7 linked regions of the Homo sapiens genome follow. The protein of the gene in region 5 interacts with the protein of the main gene of each other region in a biochemical or structural test. Each region holds a gene or a part of one and is shown on either strand. Other genes may lie near its edges.

The links.
Region 1: the proteins of FGFR1 (region 5) and L1CAM form a complex in vitro, tested with the Homo sapiens proteins (one study listed by BioGRID).
Region 2: the proteins of FGFR1 (region 5) and ZMYM2 form a complex in vitro, tested with the Homo sapiens proteins (one study listed by BioGRID).
Region 3: the proteins of FGFR1 (region 5) and FGF5 interact in a test that uses a peptide from one of them, tested with the Homo sapiens proteins (one study listed by BioGRID).
Region 4: the proteins of FGFR1 (region 5) and FGF3 interact in a test that uses a peptide from one of them, tested with the Homo sapiens proteins (one study listed by BioGRID).
Region 6: the proteins of FGFR1 (region 5) and ITK interact in a test that uses a peptide from one of them, tested with the Homo sapiens proteins (one study listed by BioGRID).
Region 7: the proteins of FGFR1 (region 5) and PKM form a complex in vitro, tested with the Homo sapiens proteins (one study listed by BioGRID).

Annotation. Positions count from the first base shown.
Region 1 is NC_000023.11:153,879,674-153,883,173, forward strand, and holds part of L1CAM (neural cell adhesion molecule L1 isoform 1 precursor), read right to left. Parts: intron 1,046-3,500; exon of another isoform or gene 999-1,045; intron 1-998. UniProt on the Homo sapiens protein: Neural cell adhesion molecule involved in the dynamics of cell adhesion and in the generation of transmembrane signals at tyrosine kinase receptors.
Region 2 is NC_000013.11:19,961,727-19,965,226, reverse strand, and holds part of ZMYM2 (zinc finger MYM-type protein 2), read right to left. Parts: intron 8-3,500; coding exon of another isoform or gene 1-7. UniProt on the Homo sapiens protein: Involved in the negative regulation of transcription.
Region 3 is NC_000004.12:80,269,664-80,273,163, reverse strand, and holds part of FGF5 (fibroblast growth factor 5 isoform 1 precursor), read right to left. Parts: intron 1-3,500. UniProt on the Homo sapiens protein: Plays an important role in the regulation of cell proliferation and cell differentiation. Required for normal regulation of the hair growth cycle.
Region 4 is NC_000011.10:69,812,943-69,816,416, forward strand, and holds part of FGF3 (fibroblast growth factor 3 precursor), read right to left. Parts: coding exon 3,378-3,474; intron 1-3,377. UniProt on the Homo sapiens protein: Plays an important role in the regulation of embryonic development, cell proliferation, and cell differentiation. Required for normal ear development.
Region 5 is NC_000008.11:38,462,136-38,465,635, forward strand, and holds part of FGFR1 (fibroblast growth factor receptor 1 isoform 1 precursor), read right to left. Parts: intron 1-3,500. UniProt on the Homo sapiens protein: Tyrosine-protein kinase that acts as a cell-surface receptor for fibroblast growth factors and plays an essential role in the regulation of embryonic development, cell proliferation, differentiation and migration.
Region 6 is NC_000005.10:157,243,340-157,246,839, reverse strand, and holds part of ITK (tyrosine-protein kinase ITK/TSK), read right to left. Parts: intron 3,218-3,500; coding exon 3,046-3,217; intron 2,579-3,045; coding exon 2,362-2,578; intron 1,115-2,361; coding exon 1,050-1,114; intron 960-1,049; coding exon 841-959; intron 1-840. UniProt on the Homo sapiens protein: Tyrosine kinase that plays an essential role in regulation of the adaptive immune response. Regulates the development, function and differentiation of conventional T-cells and nonconventional NKT-cells.
Region 7 is NC_000015.10:72,203,691-72,207,190, forward strand, and holds part of PKM (pyruvate kinase PKM), read right to left. Parts: coding exon 3,437-3,500; intron 3,191-3,436; coding exon 3,038-3,190; intron 1-3,037. UniProt on the Homo sapiens protein: Catalyzes the final rate-limiting step of glycolysis by mediating the transfer of a phosphoryl group from phosphoenolpyruvate (PEP) to ADP, generating ATP.

The sequences.
Region 1 (3,500 bases), on a different chromosome or scaffold from region 5:
GGCACTGGGCAAGGGACGGCCGTGAGACAGGATGAATGGCACACTGCTGGCTGACCCATGCCATGCCAGGGAACAGGTGGGGGTCGGGGGATTCCTGCTGCGGGTAGGAACGGGGGGAGGGGGAAGCACCCAGAAAATCCCAGGGAAGCCTTCCAATATTGCTGCTGGCTGGGAGTAAGTGGTCACCTGGCTGGAGGAGACGCACATGTGTTAGGCCAAGAGTGAGCCTGCGTGACCATGCACTGAGTGGACAGTGGCCGCTGTGCTGGGGCAGTTGAAGATGGGGCCATTCCTGAGTAAGTCCGGTCCCAAACCCATCCTCCCCGGTGGGAAAGGGCCAGGGAGGCAAGGGTCACGCCCAGCAGCCTACAGGGAGGGGTTCAGCCCCAGAAGAGCCTTGCCCCATCCCACCCCACCTGGCCTCCCACTACACCCGCAGGTCCCTCAGGGAGTCCTCTGTCCTCTGCTCCAAAGTGCCTGCTTTGGTCTGATGGGAAGCAGCTTGCCAGGGAGGGACCTGGGAGGTTGTGGAGCCTGGCTAGACCTGGAGTGACTGCCTCCTCCCTGAAAACACACACACACACCCCATCACCACCACCACCACACACCTTGAGAAGGGAACCTCCAGCGGTGCCCTGCACATGTGCCCTGCACACCTGCCTGTCAGTTCTCAGGTTCTGCCTGGAGTTCCTCTCAAAGGAGAAGCAACAAGAGAGCCCTTCAACAGCACAGCAGAGACTATCCGGCTTCTCCTGCCCTTGTCTCCTGGGGACATGGTGCCTGGTGACTCAGTGGGCCAGAGTGGGGGTGGGGCTGGGGGCTCAGCACAGGGCACATGAAAGGGTCAGAGTGTGGTGCTGGGCCCATGTGCTTGCAGGCCTGGGAGCCTGGGGGGCTTCTGTGCCTGTTGGTGTGTATACGATGGTGTGGGTGTCACCTACACCCTGTGCACTGTGTCCCTTTAAGGCTCCCGCTGGCCCTCCCCGCCCCGCTCCCCAGGCCGTGGCTGGCGGGTTTCTATGGTGATGCAGCCCAAGTCCCAGAGGTGGGGGAAGCCAGAGGAAAGCCTTGTTATGTGTTATGTAGACAGCACATAAAGGGGGCTGCTCCAGGGAGCCCCCACAGGTACCTGGGGGCCCAGAAGTCCTTTATGACTGCTGCTTAGTCCCTGCACTCCCAACCTCACCCCTCCCTAAGAGGGTACCCTTAGGAGAGAGTGAGCCCTCAGCCCCCTCATCTCGCCTGAGGCTTCAGTCTCCAAGGCAACTACAACTCACCTGTAATGGACCATTCTCCTTAAAAGATGGGGAAAAGAGACGGAGGTTAACCCTTTGTGGGGTTCAGGGAGGACGGTCTTGACTACTGGGGAAGGGAGGGAGGAGCCCCACTCCATCCCCACAATCACATGCCTCTGTGGTCTGTTCTATTAAATCAACTTACAGCGTGGACTTACCACGTACCAGAAAGCCTCATGAGCACTTCCACTCACATCCACTCATCTCCTCCCCAGATTTGCCTCAGGGAGGGAGGTGCTATCATCATCCCCATTTTACAGATGAGGACACGGAGGCTCAGAAAACTGGAAACTGTGTCCAAGATCACAGAGCTGGCACTGGGTCTCAGCAGGGGTGGGGTTTTAGAGGGCGTGGTGGCTCCCTAAGCTGCCTCTCAGAGGCTCTGGCATCCCAACATGTGTGCCTGCTGGGCTTCCCAGGGAACCAGGGGCCTGGGCGAGGATGGCCTCCAAGCCATCCTGCCCCGTGGGGAGGGCTTACTTGCCAGGCAGATGGCAGGCAAATGTCGGGGGCAGGGAGTGACATCTTGGGATGGAGGCCATGCGGAAGTAGGATGTGATCAACATCACGTCTCAGCACAGAGCTGAAGCCCGACACCAAACAAACCCCCAAGTCCCCCATCCAGGTACTCAGTCCAAGAGAAGGCCAACTCCTTTCCCTTTTGGGCTTGGGGACAGGCTGGTTTCTTGGTCCCCTCTTCTGCTCTCTGGAATCTGGACTTGTTCTGATACCTTTCTTGCAACCAGAGGCTCCAGAACCCCTCCCAAAGAGGCCCCTCTCCAATCAGCATTTAGGGACAGCAGTGGCCCCATTCTTGTGTCGAAGGAGATACTGATGCCCAGCAGGCGGCAAGGCTTCAGCCTCCGAGACCCCTAGAAGGCGAGAGAAATGAGGTGGCAGCAAAACTAGGGCTCCTCTCAGGCCCCAGGCCTCCTCAGGGAGCTAGGATGACCCTAGCACTAGAGGGGGCTTCAGCGGCCAGGCCAGAAGGAACAGACTGCATCCAGTTCCTGGGGCTGTGGCCTGAAAAGGAGAGCAGGGAAGGAGCCCAGCCTGGGGCAGGGAGAGGCCCTGGCCCACAGCAGTCCTGGGATACCTAGCCTGTGTTGGTTTGCGGGGGGCGGGGTGGGGGTGCCTGGAAACAGCTCAGACACTGCCAGGCCCCACGGGCCCCCTCCAGGGGCCCCACTCCCGAGGGGTTAAAGGGCAGAGGGGGACACAGGAAGCCCGGGGGCGGACAATGGGGCCTCTGTGATCCCCAGGGCTTGGGCATTCCTAAGTCATGAACACAGACGCAGATGGCTGGGAGACAGGGCCACAGGGAACCCCCCTCCACTGAAGCACAGCCTGGGTTGGCCAGAGGCTCTGTCCCCATCCAGCCACTGCAGCAGCCACCCTCAGCCCCACCCCTTCCCAGCACAGGCCCTGTTGGGGCATCTGAGGAGACCCACGTGGCCTCATGACAATATGTGTGTGCATGCTGGTTCACGAACACACACACACATGCAACCAAATATATGACCCCACCCAGACAAACAGGAATACTGGAGGTTACACACACACAAATACACACACACAAGCAGAGACACAAACCCCATACATGCAGATAGGAAGTCTGCCTGGCTGGAGGGCAGGGGGCAGAGGGGCTCCCGGGACTCAGTCCCTTTCCCTCAAGTTCCACTCTCAGACCCGCACTGGGATGGACGGGTTCAGAAGTCCTCTTTGGCCAAGTGCATGGAGCCCAGGACGCTGCCACCCTCCTGCCCCACCCAACCCCTGGCCCTCGCAGCTGCCCCTGCTGGGTGTAAGGGCCAGAGATGAGCAGGAGCTGCTGACTGACAGTGGCTGGGCACTCCCTCTGCAGCTTTCCAACCTGGGAAGAACACGGGGACCTGGGCTGGGGGCCACTGGACAAAGAAAAGCTTCTAGAAAGAACAGCGGCCAGACCCTCCCCAGCTCCTCCCTCTTTTTCCAGCCACAGCCTTCAGGAAGCCACAAAGACCCTGTTGATATCTGGGGAAGAGGCAAGCTGGGCGGGCTACCTCCCCCAGTGCTCGTCTGGCTGCTGCTCACCAGGCACCCCCCATACAGCCTTCCACTCAGACAAGGCCCCCATGGGGGGTCTGGGCCCAACCCCAAGGCGTAGAGTCCAGCAGAAGGGTGCTGAGTGGCTGCTGGACAGGGCACAACCTCAGGGCCCTCAAG
Region 2 (3,500 bases), on a different chromosome or scaffold from region 5:
TGTATGGCTATAAAGTAAAAAGAATTTGTCTCACTGTATTATAGTCACATTTTACAAACATTATTCTGTCTGCAACTTCTAACTGTGCATCCCAATGTTACTTAGAATAGCTATGTAAGTATTTTTCTTTTTTTTTTTTTATTATACTTTAAGTTTTAGGGTACATGTGCACATTGTGCAGGTTAGTTACATATGTATACATGTGCCATGCTGGTGCGCTGCACCCACTAACTTAAGTATTTTTCTTATCCAACCTAAATGCATGGTTAGAGACAAATAAGTTTAATGCAAGAGTTTTAACAGATCTTTCCCAACATTTGCATATGAAGTTGCAACAATTAGTTATATTCCTAGCAAATTTATCCTGATTACAATTTAACATTAACTTGTAATATAAAAAAACATTTTTATGGATAAATTTTTAAAAACTCTTTAGACTAACTTATAAATTCACAAAAACTAATCTGACCTTGAAATTCACTAGGAACACTTAGAGAGAAAAAAAAAAATCTGGAACCCTCTGAAAAAGAGAGAAAAACCTAATCCTTGGCAGCCTACTGACATTAAAGAGAACGGTCTAAATTAAGAATAAACAAAAACAAGATGATAACTTATACTAATAAAACATAAACGTGCAAAAGTTTTTAAAAACCCAACCTACTGGCTGGGCATGGTGGCTCACGCCTGAAATCCCAACACTTTGGGAGGCCAAGGTGGGAAGATCGCTTGAGTCCAGCAGTTTGAGAGCAGTGTGGACAACAAAGTGGGTCCCTGTCTCTACAAAAAACCGACCTATTAAACATGCATTATCTATTTCTGTGAATAATCACTTTATTTTTTTTTTTATTTTTGAGACGGTCTCTCACTCTATTGCCCAGGCTGGAGTGCAGTGGTGCAATCTTGGCTAACTGCAACCTCCACCTCCCAGTTTCAGGTGATTCTCCTACCTCAGCCTCCTGAGTAGCTGGCATGACGGGTGCCTACCACCATGCCTGACTAATCTTTGTATTTTAGTAGAGACAGGGTTTCACCACATTGGCCAGGCTGGTCTCGAACTCTTGACCTCAGGTGATCCACCCGCCTCAGTCTCCCAAAGCTAAGATTACAGGCGTGAGCCACTGAGCCCGGCCAACCAGTTTACTCTTATGTCATTTCTTGAAATAGCAAACATGAATATTTACAGAACATTAATCAAATCAGTAAAACTAAAACCCAACAGCTATACCCTTCTTTCAAATTAAAGAGCATTGATTTTTCTTAAAATTTATTACTTCTAATTTTCAATGGACTGTTATAAAGTTAAAAATAAAACAGGACTAAGAACAAATCCCAAAGTCATACTAATCAAGTGATTTTGCTAACCTCTCTGCACATCTTTTTAAACTCTTAAAAAGAGTTTAAAAAATGTTTACGAAAATTCATTCTGCAGCTCCACAGAAGTGCTTCAAGTATTGTGTAAAGCTTGATCCAAAAAAAATTAATATATCTTAAATATGCACAAAAACAACAGATATGTTCAAATGTGTTATAATCCAAATTTTAACACATTTTAAAATGACCAACTCATCTTGTTGCCAAGCATTTGGTGATGACCATAAAGACCCTTTTCATATGTCTATTTTAGTAAGAGACATCAAAGACTACGAAGTGATTTGTTTAAAAAACCAGGTTGTAAATATAAAAATGTGCAACTCCAACTACATAAAAAAAAAAATTCTTGCTGGTATACAACCAAAATAAAATATGAAAATAAGCTGCAACTGTTACTCAGATTGCTGCACTCAAATTCATGGATTTATCCAACAGCAATTTTTCTCATTGACAACTTTGTAAGTGTTATATATTGGAGACCTGCATTAGAACTTTTTGATCTGAATACTTCAAAAGTCCTGTTCACTTCTATGCTTTGACAGGAATATAAGAAAATTAACCAACTGAAGTGTTTTTAAAGGAGCAAAACGCAGGGAGTCAAAGCAATTTATTTCTTCCCTAAATTGAAATGCCCTACATAAAATACTATTTGTGAATCCAATGAGAGAAAACACTTGAGTTTGGGCTCTCCTTGCATTCGCTAAAAAAATCACATGCAGGCCGGCACGGTGGCTCACGCCTGTAATCTCAGCACTCTGGAAGGTTGAGGCGGGCAGATCACCGGAGCTCAGGAGTTCGAGACCAGTCTGGCCAACATGGTGAAACCTTGTCTCTACTAAAAATCCCCATCTCTACTAAAAATACAAAACTAGCCAGGTGTAGTGGCACGTGCCTGTAGTCCCAGCTACTTGGGAAGCTGAGGCAGGAGAATGCTTGAACCCTGGAGGCGGAGGCTGCAGTGAGCAGACATCACGCCACTGCACTCCAGCCTGGATGACAGAGACTCTGTCTCAAAAAAAAAAAAAAAAAAATGGCTGGGCAAGGTGGCTTACGCCTGTAATCTCAGCACTTTGGGAGGCTGAGGCAGGCGAATAACTTGAGGCCAGGAGTTCGAGATCAGCCTGACCAACATGGTGAAATCCTGTTTCTACTAAAAATACAAAATTGGTCAGGCACAGTGGCGCATGCCTGTAATCCCAACTACTTGGGAGGCTGAGGCAGGAGAATCACTTGAACCCAGGAGGCAGAGGTTGCAGTGAGCCAAGATCACATCACTGCACTCCAGCCTGGGCAACAAGAGTGAAACTCCATCTCAAAAAAAAAAAAAAAAAAAAAAAAAATATATATATATATATATATCCCATGCAATTTGAATAGCCCAGTCTTCTCATAATCAACGACATTTATTATGATATATATTAATAATATTGTCAAATGGTATAGAGACATATTAATGCTAGAGAGACAGGAAATATAACAATTCTAATTATACCATGCCTTTTGACACCAGGGTTTCAGCATTTCATACCCATTCTTCCCATCACATTAATACCAGAGCATCTGACTGAAGGTAAAGATTCACTTTGTCTCAAATGCATTAATATTAAATTTGTACACTTCTGTACCTCAAACAAGGGCAAAATACAATAAAACTGAAAAAATAAAAACTGTTGTTCAAAGATAATATAAGCTCTATATCCACACAGAAGTTAAAAATGTTCATATGTCAGCATATATGTCATACTTGAGTGATTCAGGATTGTCTCACCACATGAGATACAAAAGCCCAGCCCATGGAAAAGTAGGGACCACTTTATATCTTCCTCCCAACAATTTAAAAGGATAGGTGGGAGGGAACAGATATTAGAAAGGATGCACTAAAGAAATATGCCATAAATATGCAAAGTATTTTTAACTGTCAAAATACTTTGTAAATGGATCTAAAAGCATTTACATATGTTCCTACTGTATAATAAAAGTACTTATTTAGTCAAGGCCAATTAAAAATCATCAGGTTATCTTCATCTTACTGTCTAGCACATAGCAGCATCACTAGTTGCTGTTTTTAAGTAAAGAAATGTTCAACTCTAAGCTAAATCGTTAAGCAAAACAAGAACCATTCTGGTATT
Region 3 (3,500 bases), on a different chromosome or scaffold from region 5:
CTGTATAAATCCTTTCCTTCAAAATGTTTTTAAATGCTATTTATAATAGGATTTATTATGAACATTGTTTGAGTGTGCTTCTAAAGGTTTAGAAGCATTATCATTTTATCAAATATTAACAAAACACACCAAATGCTTTGTAAAGTTACTCTACACAGATGTAATATGTTATAATAATATTATTACTAAAGCATGACTATAACAGTGATACAAAGTTAAATTTCTATTGGAAATACGGAATGATATTGGGAATAGCATTAATGATTTTAGATATTTGGGAGATGGGGGATGTGATTGTGAATATTTATGTAAACATGTGCATTCAAAAATGAGAAAGAAAGAAAGAAGGAAATTGTATATGTGTGGAATGATGGATACAAAAGGGACAACATGGAGTTGATACAGGAGAGATTTGATTGTATATTTCCTCCAATTTACTCATGGTGCTAGATTGTTAGAGGCTTTTAATTCCATTCCCTGGAAAATTATCTGGTTTTGAACATGCAGATATATTGTATATTAATGAAAAAATACATGGCAGAATAAAAGATTAAAGTCTCATAAGTGTATGTGTTTATATGCTAACTTTTAAGATGTTGAGATAAAAAGGCTTTATAAATATTTGTTTTAATAGAAATACTACTGCTTTGCTTAAATAAATAGTTTCTGATAATTAGCTCATTCTCTCTTTAAACAAAGACCCATTTAGATGCATTTAACATGTATTTCAATACAGTGTACACTCTGTGTATATATTATGTACAAGTTGCATGTAATGTATTTTAAATATGGGGAAGATGAAATAATATATGTGAAAGTGTTATTATTGTATTACATATTGCTGGGTTTCTTCTTAAAACTTCCAGGATAAAAATGATATAGTGCCTGAGAATTAAAAGATTTTATAACCTTAAGAAAATTATCTTTAACTGAAAGCTTAAAAATACACTTTACATATGTCATTCTATTTAACATTATAAAGAATGCAGGAGATGTAAGAGATGAGACTAGATGAATGAATTATTTTTCACGTGAGTAACTTTGGTATTGATCTTCTAAATCTTACCGTAATTATGACCTAATATTAAGAACACTGTTATGATCATAATTTCCAAAGTAATGTCAGCAGTGATTTCACAATGCCTTGTTTTCTGGAGCAGATTCAATGAGTCTCACAGTTCAGTTTCCTGCCCTCCTCCCCAAAACATCACAGGCCTATTGATTTTGCTATGACAAATCTCAGTAACTCATTCAGGAATTCTACGTAATTTTTTAAACCCATGTGCCTTAAATCACAAATATATAAATTTCTGAAAACATTTCTCTGACATTGATTTTTTTTAATTTCAGTAATTTTCTGACCTTTATCATCGGGAGTCACGCATATTAAATTTGATGGAAACTTACAATTCTCCTTATGGATGCCAAGGCAGTATTTCTAAGCCAAACTGTGGAAGGCCAAGCTTGTCTTGTAGATGGTATATAGTCAATGACTGTTTGCTAAATTTGACTGCCTTCTTTGATCCTCTCACTACCTCTCTTTTCTCTTGTCAGGACACCCCATGCATACACAAGTATGGACAGGTGTCTTAGTACTCTCCTGCTACTGTGGCCTTCTCCTGCTTGAGAAGGCACGGGGTGGACGGGTGGCTCAGTGTAAATAAATTCACATTAAAGTGCTACAGACAGTGTGTTATTTTTCTTAAGGTGTTCCCATTTAAGAGGGTCAAAAGAAGAGGAGAATGCTTAACAGAAGGAATTATTCTCTTTGTGGAATTTCAGCATTGACACCTAGGCTGAAGAAGGCAAGAATGTCTTGGTGTCTCTCAGCTTATACACACAGTCTATTCCACTTATGCATTATGATGTAAGCTTACTTCCGTAAAAAAAAACATATTTCTAGATTTTTGACTTAGTCCTCTGCAGATTTCTTAATATAATAGGGCTCTACTGATAGTGGTTGATACAACTATACACATTTTTCCTTTTTCTCTCTTTTGTTAATGAATAAAATATAGAAAAGCACAGATATTCCATGTATTCAGAAGCTTTCAACAACGCATCTGAAAATCCCCAGACAAAAATATTTTAAAACTGAAGTTTCTCTACTTGCATCCACAAAGTAACAGATATGCTGTGCCAAGTTATGAAATCTGAATCTTGAAATATTCAGTTTAGCAGTCTTCACTGATTAAATTAGCAACAGAAATTTTCCACTTGATTTTTCTGCATAGTAGATATAGATTCTGATTTATCTAGGCTTGGGGGACTGTCTAATGACTCCACATGACCCCAAAATTGGTAGTGAATTTAGATTTTTTTAAAAAGCAGTAACATCGACGATTCTATTAACCAAAATATGTGCTTGGAATTTTCATATTTTATGTAAACGCTTTGACAAAGCCTTAAACTTTTCTTCCCTAAACTGACAACTACTTGATTGCCTATTCTTCAATGGCCCAAGGTAAGTCAACAGAAGCACTGTATTGACATTAAACTTGAAGGCGTATAAATTAAACCAAACCATTTGTTTCCATGCAATAGTTGGGTCATCTATCTTGCCTTGTTCATATTTCTTCATTTTTCCACAGTATTTCCTCATAATAAGGATTTATATACAATGAGCTTGATTTCATTTTCTGTGTTCAAAACTTGGGATAATTATTGTGTAAGAGAAGCTAAGAGTATATTAATTGGTCCATGTAAACTAAACAAATTATGTTTGAAAGTCCATGGCCATGGTGCACTTCTCATGGTGAAACCAGAAAACATTTGCAATTTGCAAAAAAAAAAAAAAAGTTTACTGTCAAATAATAGTTTGCGAAACACATATGATTATCTGTTCTATCAGACAAATACTACAGAATATTATTAGGTTTAAAATAACTTGTTAGAATGCAGTTTCATGGCAAAGCTTTGACTTTTCTGAAGTATCAGGGTTGTAACAAAAAGAATAGGTTTTCTATCATCACTAACTCACATACAGTAGAAATAGAAGATGAGATCAAACTGAGGTATCCTCTGTGGCCCTTGATCCAGCCCTCTCAGCCTCTCTTAGGAGATTTAAACACATTTCCTCACATACTCTAAGAAAGGCCATGGCCAACACCTTAGTTTACACGAATGTCAGGAAACATCAACTACTGCCTTCAAAGAGGTAAATGACCAATTGTAATTAGCAAGTTTCTGTTTCTCTTTTACAGCTAGGTAATGGCAGAGATCCATGTTAAATTCCCAAATTACATGCAAATTCTGCATTGATCAAAGGTAGTAAAAATTTTATGAAGTAGTATTAGACACTCCAGATATCACAAAGCAGAAAATTACTATGATTTGAATATTTGCTATGCTTTCTTCTGGGGAAAAAAAAAAAAACTCTATGGAAGACAAACAACACAAAAGTAACCAAAATATCATGCTTAGTGAGATAGGTATCTTATATTGGGTACATGATTTATGGCATGAATGAAAGCAAGTCATGTGAAAGACACAGAAACTAA
Region 4 (3,474 bases), on a different chromosome or scaffold from region 5:
GCACCTGGGGTGGCCAAGATGACCAGGGCAGAAGGTGTTGGCTCAGGGGCCAGGGCCATAGACTCCAGAGCTACTGCAGTTGGGACTCGCTGTGACAACACTTTCCAATGTGTGTCCTGACACTGCCGCCCCACCAGACCTGGTTCCACAGGCCCCTCCCCCAGGGCCGCTTCCACCCCATGAAGGGTGGGGAGGAAGCCGACTCCGAAGCTGCTTTGTTGAGGAGGTGACTTCTAAAGGGAGCTGTAAGGGCGGGGCGGGCACTTTCTCATGGGCATTTTCTGGAGGAGGGCGTTCCAGGCAGTGAAGGTGTGGCCTGAGCAGTACAGATGGCTTGGAGAGTTGAGGGGGCTTCCGGAAGCCGGAGGAGGCTCAACCTCTGGATGACAGCCCCCCTGGGAGCAGATGGCACCTGGGCTGCTGCTCTGTGGGTGGAGCTAAGGTGCCTGGGGGATGCCTGCGCATCATGGGAGTCCTCAGAAGCCATGAACTGGGCTGATTTGCTTTTTTAGGAAGCCCCTTTAACATGCACTAGCAGAGTGCAACACATGGTAAGTGCCCAGGACACTGACTGGTGAACGAAGGACTGAATGTCAGATGGGTGGGTGGATGGATGGATGGATGGGTGGATGGATGGATGGATAGATGGGTGGGTGGATGGATGGATGGATGGGTGGATGGATGGATGGATGGATGGGTGGATGGGTGGATGGATGGATGGGTGGATGGCTGGATGGATGGATGGGTGGATGGATGGATAGGTGGATGGATGGATAGGTGGATGGATGGATGGGTGGATGGCTGGATGGATGGATGGGTGGATGGGTGGATGGATGGATGGATGGATGGATGGATGGATGGATGGGTGGATGGGTGGATGGGTGGATGGGTGGATGGCTGGTTGGATGGATGGGTGGATGGATGGATAGGTGGATGGATGGATGGGTGGATGGCTGGATGGATGGGTGGATTGCTGGATGGATTGGTGGATGGGTTGATGGGTGGATGGGTGGATGGGTGGATGGGTGAAAGGATGGAAGGAAGGAGGGAGCATGGACGGATGGACATGTGAATGGGCAGATGGACAGATGAACGGTTGGAAGGATGGATGGAAAGAAGGATGAGAGAAAGGAAAGAAGGAAGGAAGGAGAGGTGTATGGACAGATGGGTGAAGAGAATAAAGGAAGGGGAAAGAAGGAAGGAAGATGGATGGATGGCTTGACAAACAGATGGACTGGAGGTAGGAGAGGCTGGAGCAGTGATCCAGGTGGGAAGTGATGAGCCTGCCTTTTAAGGCGTGCTCTCAGGGATGAGGCAGAGGGAGGTGAGGTGTGTGGGCTGAAGAGATGCAGGGGCGTGGTCTGAGGACTAGGGATGGACTGAATAGCAGGAGGGGTCTACCATGACTCCCAGCCCACTCTGGGTGAGAGTGAGTGGCTGGTGGGGCGATGATTAAGATGGGGAGTCGGGGAGCTGCTGAGTTCGGTTCGAGTGTCTGAGTCAGCAGGATGTTGGGGGAGGGTGGTCTATACCTCAGAAGGGAGGTCAGGGCCAGACCAGGAGTGTCAGGGTGCAGTGCTCACTGGCCCACAGTGAGATGAGCTGGCCTGAGGGCAAGCATGCTGCCGGCAAAGTCCAGGGAGCCCCGTGGTGGGACAGCACTCCTAGGCAAGCTGGCCGCACGCAGGACTGTGGTATCAGGTGGCAGGTGGCAGGTGACGGAGTTGGCATCCAGGCTACTATGCCTCCCAGGTTGTCTGCAGGGCAATGGGAACTTCTCCACTGGGCACTCTGGAAAGTTCCACACCCTCCAGCCAGACTGCTTGGCTAAGCATCCCTGGTGGGGCTAGGAGCCTCTGTCCACCCTTCTCAAAGCCAGGCTGTGAGTTCTCAGGCACGGAAGCCCCAGGTGGGCTCTGAACCACTGGGACCCCCTCATGTCATGCTTTATTCTGTCTCTCCAAATCCTGGCTCCCCTATGGCAGAAGCTGGCACCATGAGGGCCCCTGCTCCCAGACACAGCTTCCAGGACACTGACTGATGAATGGACTGAATGTCAGATGGATAGGTGTATGGATGGATGGGTGAGTGGGTGGGTGGATGGATGGGTGAGTGGGTGGGTGGATAGGTGGATGGGTGAGTGGATGAGTGGATGGGTGGATAGGTGGATGGATGGATGGATGGATGGATGGATAGGTGGATGGGTGGATGGGTGGATGGGTAAATGGGTGGATGGGTGGATGGGTGGATGGATGGATGGATAGGTGGATGGTGGATGGGTAAATGGAAGGATGGGTGGATGGGTGGATGGATGGATGGATAGGTGGATGGATGGATGGGTGGATGGGTGGATGAGTGGATGGATGGATGGGTGGATGGGTGGATGAGTGGATGGGTGAATGGGTGGATGGGTGGATGGGTGAGTGGATGGGAGGAAGGAGGGAGTAGCCTCTGGACCAGAGAAAATGAAGGGGCGCATCCCGGCTTTCTGGACCTTCCTTTAGCAAAACGGCTAAAAATCTGTGATGAAATCATCAGCTTCTGCGAGAGGGAGCTGCGGGATGTGTCCTCTGTGAGCAGGACTGAGCAGAGAGCTCACTGCAGGGAGATTGTCCTTGGGCCGCGTCAGCCAGGCTACTCATGGATGGAAAACCTCTCATTGCCCAAGGAAGTATCAGCCAAATTGCATGTAATGACTAGTTGGAGGTAGCAAATTTCCCTGTGACATGTATTTTACTCTGTGTATTCCCCACCCCTACCCCTTATGAAGAGGGGCGCTGCCATACCCACAGAGTAAGGAGACCCTTTTTGGTTACACGGAGGCCCAGGCAGTAGATAGACTGGGTCCCAAGCCAGGGCTCCAAGGCTCCTGTGTGCCCGGGACATGGGCGCCATCCCCCTTCCCCTCCTAGGCTTCAGCTCTCGCCTTTCCACCCTTGGAGAGAGCCGGTGGAGCTGGGCCAGCGTCCTCCTCTCCATGCTCCCAGGAGAGCTCTGGCTGCCCCAAGGAACACTCCCAGGTTGTCTTGGGTCCATTTATTTTGGTGGAAATTTGGAGAACAATCACTTCCCTGCTCTCAGCTACTCTCAAGGGAGGGTGGTAGTGATGACAAGGATGGGGGAAACCTTTGCTAACCTGGCATTCTCCAGATCCCAGGTCCCCCAGGGCCAGGCTCCAGGTCACTCGCGGAGCAGCCTCTAACAGACACAGCCAAAGATCACTGGGCGTGGAGCCCTGGGCCAGGGTCTGGTCCTAGCTTGGGTCCCGTGTACCCTTGGCAAAGCATTCTACTGCCCACATCCCCCGTCCCCTGGCTTGATGTGCAGGCCAGACCGCTACTCCGTCAGCGCCCACCCACGTGACAGCCTGGACTCACCGAAGCATAGAGTCGTCCCCTCTTGTTCATGGCCAGGTACCGCCCGGAGAAGAGACCCCTGATGGCCACAATGCCCACCTCCACTGCCGTTATCTCC
Region 5 (3,500 bases):
TTGATTACATGTTCAAATGATAATATTTTGGAAATATAGTTACATTAAATAAAATCTAAACAAACAAGTTAATTAAAAAACAAATATTGGCCAGGCGCGGTGGCTCACGCCTGTAATCCCAGCACTTTGGGAGGCTGAGGTGGGCAAATCACGAGGTCAAGAGGTCGACACCATCCTGGCCAACATGGTGAAACCCCGTCTCTACTAAAAGTACAAAAATTAGCTGCGTGCAGTGGCGCGCGCCTGTAGTCCCAGCTACTCAGGAGGCTGAGGCAGGAGAATTGCTTGAACCCGGGAGGCAGAGGTTGCAGTGAGCCGAGATTGCGCCACTGCACTCCAGCCTGGCAACAAAGTGAGACTCCGTCTCAAAAAAAAAAATTTTTTTTACCTATTTCTTTCTTTTAACTTAATTTCCAATGTGGCTTCTAGAAAATCTGAACATATACATAACTCATGTTATAATGTTATATTTCTTTCTTCCTTTCTTTTTTTCTTTGAGATGGAGTCTTGCTCTGTCACTCAGGCTGGAGTTGCAGTGGCGCAATCTTGGCTCAACCACCGCCTCCCGGGTTCAAACGATTCTCCTGCCTCCCAAGTAGCTGGGATTACAGACATGAGCCACCAAGCCCGGCTAATTTTTTTATTTTTAGTAGAAATAGGGTTTCACCATGTTGGCCAGGCTGGTCTTGAACTCCTGACCTCAGGTGATCCACCTGCCTTGGCCTCCCAAAGGGCTGGGATTACAGGCATGAGCCACTGTGCCTGGCTTTTTTTTTTTTTTTTTTTTTAAACAGGGTCTTCCTCTGTCCCCCAGGCTGGAATGCAGTGGTGCAATCACAGCTTATTGCAGCCTCTGCCTCCTAGGCTCAAGTGATCCTCCCACCTCAGCCTCCTGAATAGCCGGGACTACCAGTAAGCACGAGCATACTCATCTAATTTGTGTATTTTTTGGTAGACACAGGGTCTCACCATGTTGTCCAGGCTCATCTCCATCTCATGGGCTCAAGCAATCCGCCTGCCTTGGCCTCCCAAAGTGCTGGGATTACAGGCATGAGCCACTGTGACCAGCTGCTCATGTTCTATTTCTATAGGGCGCCACAGCTCGAAGCAACATCCATGCCTCTGTGCAAGACTTTCTTCATGCCATTCCTTGTTCTGCAACAGGCCAGCCCTTCCCTTTTCTCTGAACCCCACCTTAAGAAGCTGTTTCTTCCATAAGACTTTCTTGGGCCTTCTAGCTGGAGAATTTCATTCCTCCAAATTTGCAAACCACATTACTAGCCCCTCTCACATAGCACTTAGGTCATATTATATGATTGTTATTTATGTTCTTCATTCTCTTCTCTCCCCACGAAACTGCAGGCTCCTTCAGAACAGGGTCTGTGCCTCCCTAACCTTTGCTAACACCCTCGGCACCTAGCATGTACACAGGAGATGCCAACATGTTTGTTAACTGGATGAATGAGTAAGTGAATGAAGGAAAAAAAAGGGCTGATGAAAAGAAACTGACAGAGATACTCCTCCAGAAAAAGAGGCTGAGAATATCAGAGAAAAGCAATTAGGTAGTACCCCTTGTTAACCAGCCAAACTCTAGTCCAAAGAACCCTGAGAAAATTTCTGGACAACTTGGTTCTTCAGAATTGAGGAAGTAACACCAAAACATTAATCCCTTCAGATGAGAATAAGACTTATTTCTTCCCCAAAGTGACCATTCTCTACTCACATGTTGAGAGGGCAGGGGGCAAGTACTTAATAAACATATGGAGAAAGTTACTCAGCTCAGCTTGCTAAATTTTAGTTGGTCCAATGGAAATGCTAATTTTTTGAGTCTCTTTAAAAAAAAAAAGTGTCTAAATGTCCTTGGAAGTAAGAGACATATAAAAAATTAGCAATAAGTGGTCAGGCACAATGGCTCACACCTGTAATCCCAGCATTTTGGGAGGCCGAGGCCAGCGGATTGCTTGAGGTCAGGAGTTCAAGCCCAGCCTGGCCAACATGGTGAAACACCATCTCTATTAAAAACACAAAAAATTAGCCGGACATGGTGGCGCATGCTTGCAATCCCAGCTACTAGGGAGGCTGGGGCAGGAGAATCGCTTCAACCGGAAGGCGGAGGTTGCAGTGACCTGAGATAGCGCCACAGCACTCCAGCCTGGGCGACAGAGCGAGACTATCTCAAAAAAAAAAAAAAAAAAAAAAAGCAACAAGTGAAACACGAACTGCTGCACATAATCTAGAAAACCTTGCTCTTGAAGACAGGATGTACTATGAGTGGAACCCCACCAAATTCTTGGGATAGTTCATCCATGTGAGGGCTATTAAATGGGGGAGAGGGCCCTAAACATGGTTTCTTTCATTGCAGGGGAGAGATAAATGGTGGCGAGGAGAGAATTTCTGTTTAAAGTAGATGCAACCTTAGGAGGAAAAACAAATATCCTAGCCCAAGTCTGACATTTCATCCTCTCTGGAAACACCAGAATCTTCTCTAAAGCTCTGCATCTGGGCTCCCACTAGTCCCTGGTGCGTTCAGGCCTTTTACAAAGCTCTGGGGAAGACAAATGTAAGACACAAATTTCCCAGGAGGAAATTAAACTATCAAGTGATGTGAGGCCCTTTCAGAATAAGACATTTGAATCAATTCTAACTCCTTTTCCTCCAGCAGCAACAGGCTCAAACTTTGCTAGGATGTTCTATAACTAACAGCCATTTTGACGAAAGACACTTTAGAAACGAAGGCAAGAAAAAAGCCTTTGTAGAAGCCGGCTGCTAAACCCCCAAGTTCATACCAGCAAATCTCTCATTTTAGGAGTCTTGTTTCAGGTCAATACTGAAAACAAAGAGCACACCACTAAAAGCAAAACCCATGGATTTTCCTTGGTCTCTAAGGCTTGAATCTGCCTACCCAGTGTTCAATTCAATTTTCTTGCCCTCTGGAGTCCACCAGGAATAAAGCTAGCCCAGCCTGAGGGATGCACCGATGTATCTAATCCTCTGCCCCTAGGGAGTGGGGGACGCTTCTCCATTTCTTCCTGAGCCTTTGCTTCCCTTGCTATCAAAGGGCCACCTAATGGAACTGTCTAACACCCTCCATGGCCAGAGGCCAAGGAAAAGAAGCACCCTAAGATTGTTCAAGTGGTGCCCACTCTGGCCTGAATTCCCATTGGGAAAAATACCTCGAAAATGAGCATTTCTGCAGGCATGTTTGGAAAAGCAGGCAGTGAAGTACGCAGTCCAAGTGGCTCTCAATCTGGATGAACCTCATTAAAAAGCTGACACTCAGCTATGACTAAGAGTAAATGCAACAGATATTTCAAGCAGCTCGTCACTGATGCAGTTCATAACCCTCCCAGCTGGAGTCAGGCCCCAGCAGCCTCCCGGTCCCCAAACACCCTGCACTCGGAGGGTCGGGGCAGCCCCGGAGCTTCTCCTAACCCACTGGGGGTAGGATATGTAAACAAGTCATTAGGGAGGCAGGCCATCGGCAAAGACGGCCGGCAATA
Region 6 (3,500 bases), on a different chromosome or scaffold from region 5:
TTGTTCTCCCAATAAGTCAGTACCCCTTGTTCTTTGGATGCACCAAGTTTTTGCACTTGCTGGTCCCTCTGTCAGGGACACTGTTCCCTGGCTCTTCAAATGGTGACAGCTCCCTCCTATCATTCAAGTCTCTGCTGAAGAATTACCTTCTGAGAAAGGCCTTCCCACACCACACTATTCAAAGCAGACCCTCTCTCTATCCTAGTCACTCTGCCCCATTACTGTTTTATTTTATTCATAGCACCTACTTATGATTGCCTGGCTTTATCTTCTATCCCTTAGCTTGTTTATTATTATTATTGTTTATGACTGTTATTATGATCTTTTGTGATTTTCTGTCTCCCCTCCCATCTCAAATTTAGTTCCAAAAGAACAGAAGTCTTTTCTGTTCTATGAACCACTGCATCCTCAGCACCTAGATTAGCCCTTGGCATAGAATAGATGATCAGTTAATTGTTGTTGAATGAATGAATAAATATTAATACTTATTGAGAGATAAGTATGGAAATGTAGTGTTGGACAAAACATGGTCCCTGCCTTCAAGGGGCTCATATTTGAATCTCCTGACTTCTCCAGCTTTTGACTTCACAGCAGCTGGCACCAGAACTCTTGTTTCCACTTTTAATTAACTCCCACCACCATGTCCAGTATCTCTAAAAACAAACAAAATGATGAAGGCCCTTTCATAGTTTTCGGGGCCTTTCTTACACAACCCTCCAGTGGGACACCCTCATGATATGATACAGGGTTCAGTGTGGGTAGGGTTGTCTGCATTTGATAAAGGAAACAGCTGGCCTGAAGCCCAGATCATGGGGCAGTGGGGCCCAGCATGACACTCACCAAATGACCACACATCGGACTTGCTGCTATAGCGACTGAAAGAGAAAACCTCTGGGGATGCCCACTTCACCGGGAATTTGGTGCCTGTGGAACTGGTGTACTGATCATCCAGAACGAACCTGGGAAGAGAGTGGAGGGAGAAGGTCAGAATGTTCCGGGGGCCTCAGTCCCATTCCTGAGACTTCACCGGCACCACATCCCTCTTTTACCTTGTCATCCCAAAGTCAGACACCTTGATGACTTGGTTTTCTCCCACCAAACAATTTCTGGCAGCCTGGAGAGGAGACAGGCAAACAAAGGCGGAGAGGAAAACTGTTGATGAGTCATCAGTAGTTAAGGAGTCTCCTATAATCACAGTCCTTTGCTTTACTGCAGTGCTGTCATACAAGGGCATCATGGAGCTTTACAAATGTTAATTAAGCCTCACAAATGCCGCTGGAAGTTAACTGGAAAGTTGAATGTGTAAGATCCACTATCAAGATGAGTAAGTTTATCTTCATTCTTGAGTTCTAATTAGAAATCCTTGGTGTTGTCTAACCAAAGATAGGCTCTAATGCAACCTGATGTGATAGGAAATGTTAACATCAGGGATAACAGGAAGAAAGCATCTCCCAGTTGACTAAATTAAGAATGTTTTGATGTTGTTAATCCTCTTAAAACTGTTCTTCAATAGGGAGAGTACCTGACCCCTAATTAGTATTATAGACTGTTGCATTGAAAAAGCCATTGGAGATAACACTCCAGTGTGTCTCAATTTTTTTTTTTTTTTTTTTTTTAGATGGAGTCTTACTGTGTCACCCAGGCTGGAGTGTAGTGGCTTGATCTCAGCTCACTGCAACCTCTGCCTCCTGGGTTCAAGTGATTCTCCTGCCTCAGCCTCCCAAGTAGCTAGGGTTACAGGTGCCCGCCAGTAAGCTCAGCTAATTTTTTGAATTTTCAGTAGAGATGGGGTTTCACCATGTTGGCCAGGGTGGTCTCGAACTCCTGACCTCGTGATTCGCCCACCTCGGCCTCCCAAAGTGCTGGGAGTACAGGCATGAGCCACCGCACCCAGCTGCATATCTCAAATTTTAATGTGCATACAAATCATACGGGGAATGTGTTAAAATGAATATTCCTGAGTCCCAGCCACCAGAGATTCTGAGAGTAGCTTAAGGGCTTCCCCAGTGTGATTCTGGTAGACCCTTGAATAATACCTTCAGACAAACTCAGTTTCCTCAATTTACCAGGAGGAAATTGAGTCACAGAGAGGTTAAGAAGGAGTGGCAGTTATCTCCATTTTGGAAGAATATAAACTGAAATGCAGGAGGTGAAAGAGTTTGGGCTGGGATCAGAGCCCAGAAGTAAGTCCTCATGAAGCCCTTTCCACTAGGACCACCCAAAGTAGGTGAAGGAAGGGAGAAGTTGAGAAAGGAAAGGAGATTATCTGTAATGTATTATTTATTAATGCGTTCCCAGTCATTTCAGTGAGAACTGTCCCTTTACCCTGGACCTGTGGGTGTTCACCCTGCATGCTCATACCAAGTCTCTGTGGATGACACATGCCTCTTCCAGGTAGGCCATGCCCTCACACACATCCAGACACATGCCCAGCAGGGTCTCTGCAGCAAAAAGTCCCCGCTGGGTGCGTAGATAATCTGACAGGCAGCCGTGCTCCATGAACTCAAACACCAGGCAGATGGGGGCCTGCTCCAGGCACACCCCATACAGCTGCACCAGTTTGGGATGAGAGAGTTTCCTGGAGGAAAAAGACAAGGGGTGAGATGGCCTAAACTCAGTCTCCCAAAAATGCCGAAAATATTATGGTACCAAAATAGCCAATGGTCATTTTGTCTAATTTATGGTTTGGATGAAAATAATATTCATTCCCTCCCCAAAACAAAAACATGTCATTGGAGCTGAGACCTGAAAAATGGCAAGGAGTCAGCTGTGTGTGTGAAGATGAGCAGAGGCCAGTGTGGCTGGCATGTCATGGACTGGAGGAGAGATGGGTAGGAGCTGAGAAGGGGGAGGTGGGCATGATCAGATTATGGTGGGCCTTGGAGACCACTGTGAAGAGTTTGATTGTATTCTCTGTGCAATAGGAAGCCACTGCTGGGAGTTTGCGCAGGGAGATAGTACCCCCTGGCGTTTGAATGGCATTTCAAGAACACTGAACCGATGTTCCCCCCAGAGTTTCTGCATATCCTTGTTCTGAGCACTCACATCATTACTTCAGCCTCCTCTATGAAGTCCTCTTCTGACATAGCCCCTTCCCGAATGGTTTTGATAGCCACCTTGTCCTTGTTGAGCCAGTAGCCCAGATGCACCAACCCAAATTGCCCACTGCCAATCTCTTGCACAAAAGTGAGCTCTGAGGGGTCGATCACCCATTTCCCTGGAAGAGAGAGAGAGAGTTCTCTGGGGTCAGCAAGCAGTAGATATAAGGTATTGGGATACCAGGGGACTATAAAGCCCTAACTAGAATTTTAGCCTATTGTTAATATAATTCAAAGATGGCAAATAAATTATCTTTTTCCCACATAATAACATAGGATATGCTAGAAAACTATGAAAATATGTGTGGGAAGGTAACATGGAAAGAAGGAGAGTGGCATTAATGAAGATATTAAAGAAACCATATTAATCAAAATATTAAAGAAAGGGTTCTTGCAATGTCC
Region 7 (3,500 bases), on a different chromosome or scaffold from region 5:
TGCCATGGCAACAGATTGAGCAGCGCTGGAAAGCTGGGATCAAAGCCAAAGCAAGGCAGCTCAACTGAGTTTGAAGCAGGAGAACAGAAAACGTGGGCTAACTTGTGAGAGGCACACTGAACAGCCATGTGAAGAGACAGATGCCTGTGGAAGCATGCAGATATATTTAATAAGACACTTGATTAAAATCTAATAATTAAAACAGTCATGAGAAAGCCACTGAGTTATTTATAGATCACTTGCTCAGATAAGACCAAGAATCAGAAAGACAATGTAAGCTTTAGAGGATTATAATGCAATCACCAGCATCTCAGTAAATGATGGGTGAGGGAAGAATCGGTAATACCCCCTCATCAATTTCACAGTAGAAGCAGATGTGTGGCAGGATGTACTAGGTTAAAGGTATTCTTTCTGTAAGAACGGAATGCATGCAGCCCAGAGGACAGGGGACATGAACAGGAAACAGAGCCATACCTGGTACTGCTCTTAGTTATGGGTCATAAACTGCATCAGTTAGACACAGGAGAAAGCAGTGAACAGTTAATGGAAGGAACTGTTGGCCAGTGTTAACTGGTGACACAGAAAGGAAAGGTCTAGCCACCTGGAGGGGCAGCTACAGCCTAGCCCAGACCTGTAACTTATCTTCTGAGCAGTGCCATGCAATCCAAACCTTGCAGCCCTAAAGTATCTATCTGTTCATAGGAAACACCAGGGTATGGAAGAAAGGATATGGAATTTAGACCCTGAGCCTGAATCTTAGTCTCTGACCCCACTGACAGGCTCCAAATGGAGACCTGTTCTCATCTCCTGCTAGACAGAGCATGATGTTGCAGGAGAGAAGACTGGCTTTGGAGGCAGTAGACCTAGATTCAAACCCAGGCTTTATTGGCCATATAACCCTCATCTATAAATGGAGGTAATGGGAGTTAGGAAGATTACATCCATGTACACAGAGACTTATCAGACACTTAATAATAACAGCAATGAATATTTAATGCTAAGGCTATAATTAAACATATCTAATCCATTTTACAGATGAGGTCTTAAGAGGTTAAATGACTTGCCCAAAGACACATTCAAGTCCCCACATTCTATGCAGTGATTTCATGGTTCAGTATATCTAAGTCAAGATCAGCCTCTGTTCCTCCTTTGAGACCATGAAGTCACACGATTAAGTAGGGAAATTAGAGAGAGGGGATGTGTGGAGAGACCCAGAAAGGCAGCCACTTTAGTGGTGACTGGTTCAAGGTGCACCGTCTCCTGGGACACCTTCCTACCATGGTGGCAATTGTGAGACTGCGCCAAGAGTATCTAAGCATCAGAACAGCAATCACATCACACGAATGGTGAGGTGTCAGCCAGGCCCAGTCTACATTAAGTGGGCCTGGGAGAGAAATCACTCTCTACCGATTTTTTTGTTTTTTTTTTTATGTTTGTTTGGTTTCTTTTTTGAGACAGGGTGTCACTTTGTCACCTAGGCTGGTACCATCTTGGCTCACTGCAACCTCAACCTCCTGGGTTCAAGCGATCCTGCTGCCCCAGCATCACCCCCTCTCCAAGTAGCTGGGACTACAGAAGTGCATCACCATGCCCAGCTAGCTAACTTGAATTTTTAGTAGAGACAGGGTTTCACCAGGTTGCCCAGGCTGGTCTTCTGAGCTCAAGCAATCCACCTACCTTGGCCTCCCAAAGTACTGAGATTACAGGTGTGAGCCACCATCCCTGGCCTCTACCAATTTAAATATGGGGAAACCCACTAAGGATGCTGATGACAGACAGTCCGGAAAATATCCTTAGTCAAGTGTGAACTCAGTTCGCTACTGAAAGAGCATTTAATAGAAATGACATCTCTTCTCTGAAAGCTGTTTAAGCCCAGTAACAGGATACATAGTGAAAAAGGAAAGGAAGATGCCCAGACCAGATGGGTGTTTTAGTTTTTTTTTTTTTTTTTTTTTTCTGTTTTTTCTGGTGGCAGGGGGTGGCGTTTTAAACTTGGGGGCTTGGAGGGGCTGAGGTCAAAGGGCAGCGGGTCTTTCACTGGCTAGAAAGGGAATAGAAAGGCTGAAGGAAAACCATATCTGGATAAAGTTTAAGTTCACTGAGCATGACCTAAGACTACTGGGAGAAAGTTAATTTCCAGCACTCATTTTACCAAACCTATGTAACCCTGATCAGGGATCCCTGAGTTAGCTCCAGAGCTGGAACAGACAGGGCAAAGGGACTGAGCCTCCAACCCTGAGCAGTGGCCAGGCACTCGACATGACAAGCTGGAAGAGCCTGAAGAACGAGCTCTCAGAGGAGAAAGAAGGGAAAGAGCCTCCACGACTCCTCCAGACGCTCAGTCCAGGGCCGCCAGGGTCAGCCACCCTCCCCGCTGTCTCTATCTGTGGCCCTGCCACCAGTCACTCAACCCGACTTTTTGGTCTAGAGTAAGAGCAGCAGCTGTACCCCAATGGCACAGCAAAGCAAATCCCCCTACAGGCACCATGCAAGGCCAGCACAGGCAGCTCAGTGAAGGCAACAGACTCCAGTGCAGGTCCACAAGGGCCCCCTGCGGGAGCGCCTGTCTGCAGGATGCGGGGCAGAGGGAACTGAATTGGAAGCCAAAGGAAGAGGGCAGCTGGGAGCAGGAGCCCCTAGCCCTTTTCAGAATAGGGCAAAGGTACTCAGAACTTCTGACTCTGAGGAAGAGGTACAAGACCTCCTTTCACTGCAGAAGTATCCCAGGACTTAAGCCATGGGAAGAATTCACAACCTTGAAGTCAGAAGTGAAATAAACTGTGTGGTGTCCAATGAAGGAGGATGCCTCCAGAGCAGAAGGAAATGGAGGGGTGGGGGTGTGGGCAGGAATGCAGAACAGGAGAAAAAAAAAAGCCACCTCCACTTCCACCCCCACCCTCTTGCTGCTGTAACTTGGAGGATAATGAAAGGCTGTGCATAAGAGGATGGAGAAACCTAAAAAGCTCTGCACCAGAGCTTGCATCCATCCCAGGCCCAGTCCGAAGCCCTGGGGGATGGGGCAGGCCCCAGAACTCACCAGGTGCTGCATGCGCACAGCCTCCAGAGGATAGTCCCCTTTGGCTGTTTCTCCAGACAGCATGATGCAGTCGGCTCCATCCAGGACTGCATTGGCCACATCACTGCCTTCAGCCCGAGTGGGGCGGGGCTTCTTGATCATGCTCTCCAGCATCTGGGAGGGGACAGAGCATTAGTGAGATGTAGCTTGAGCTGTCTTCAGAGACAAATGACAGCAAGCTGATCCTCTGGATAGTGAGTAGGTACACAGAGTATGGCTTTGTGTAGGTACATGGGGGAAGGGGATTATCTGTGTGTTACGTGCGACAATTCCATGGGAAGAGATCAGACAGCCTCCAGAGCTTTCCCATACAAACATGCGAGTGTGCACATGAGAATGTGGGGAAGGGTGGGCACATGCCTGAGTAGCACAGATGACAGGCTTCCCAGCTCGGTTGCACCGTCCAATCATCATCTTCTGAGCA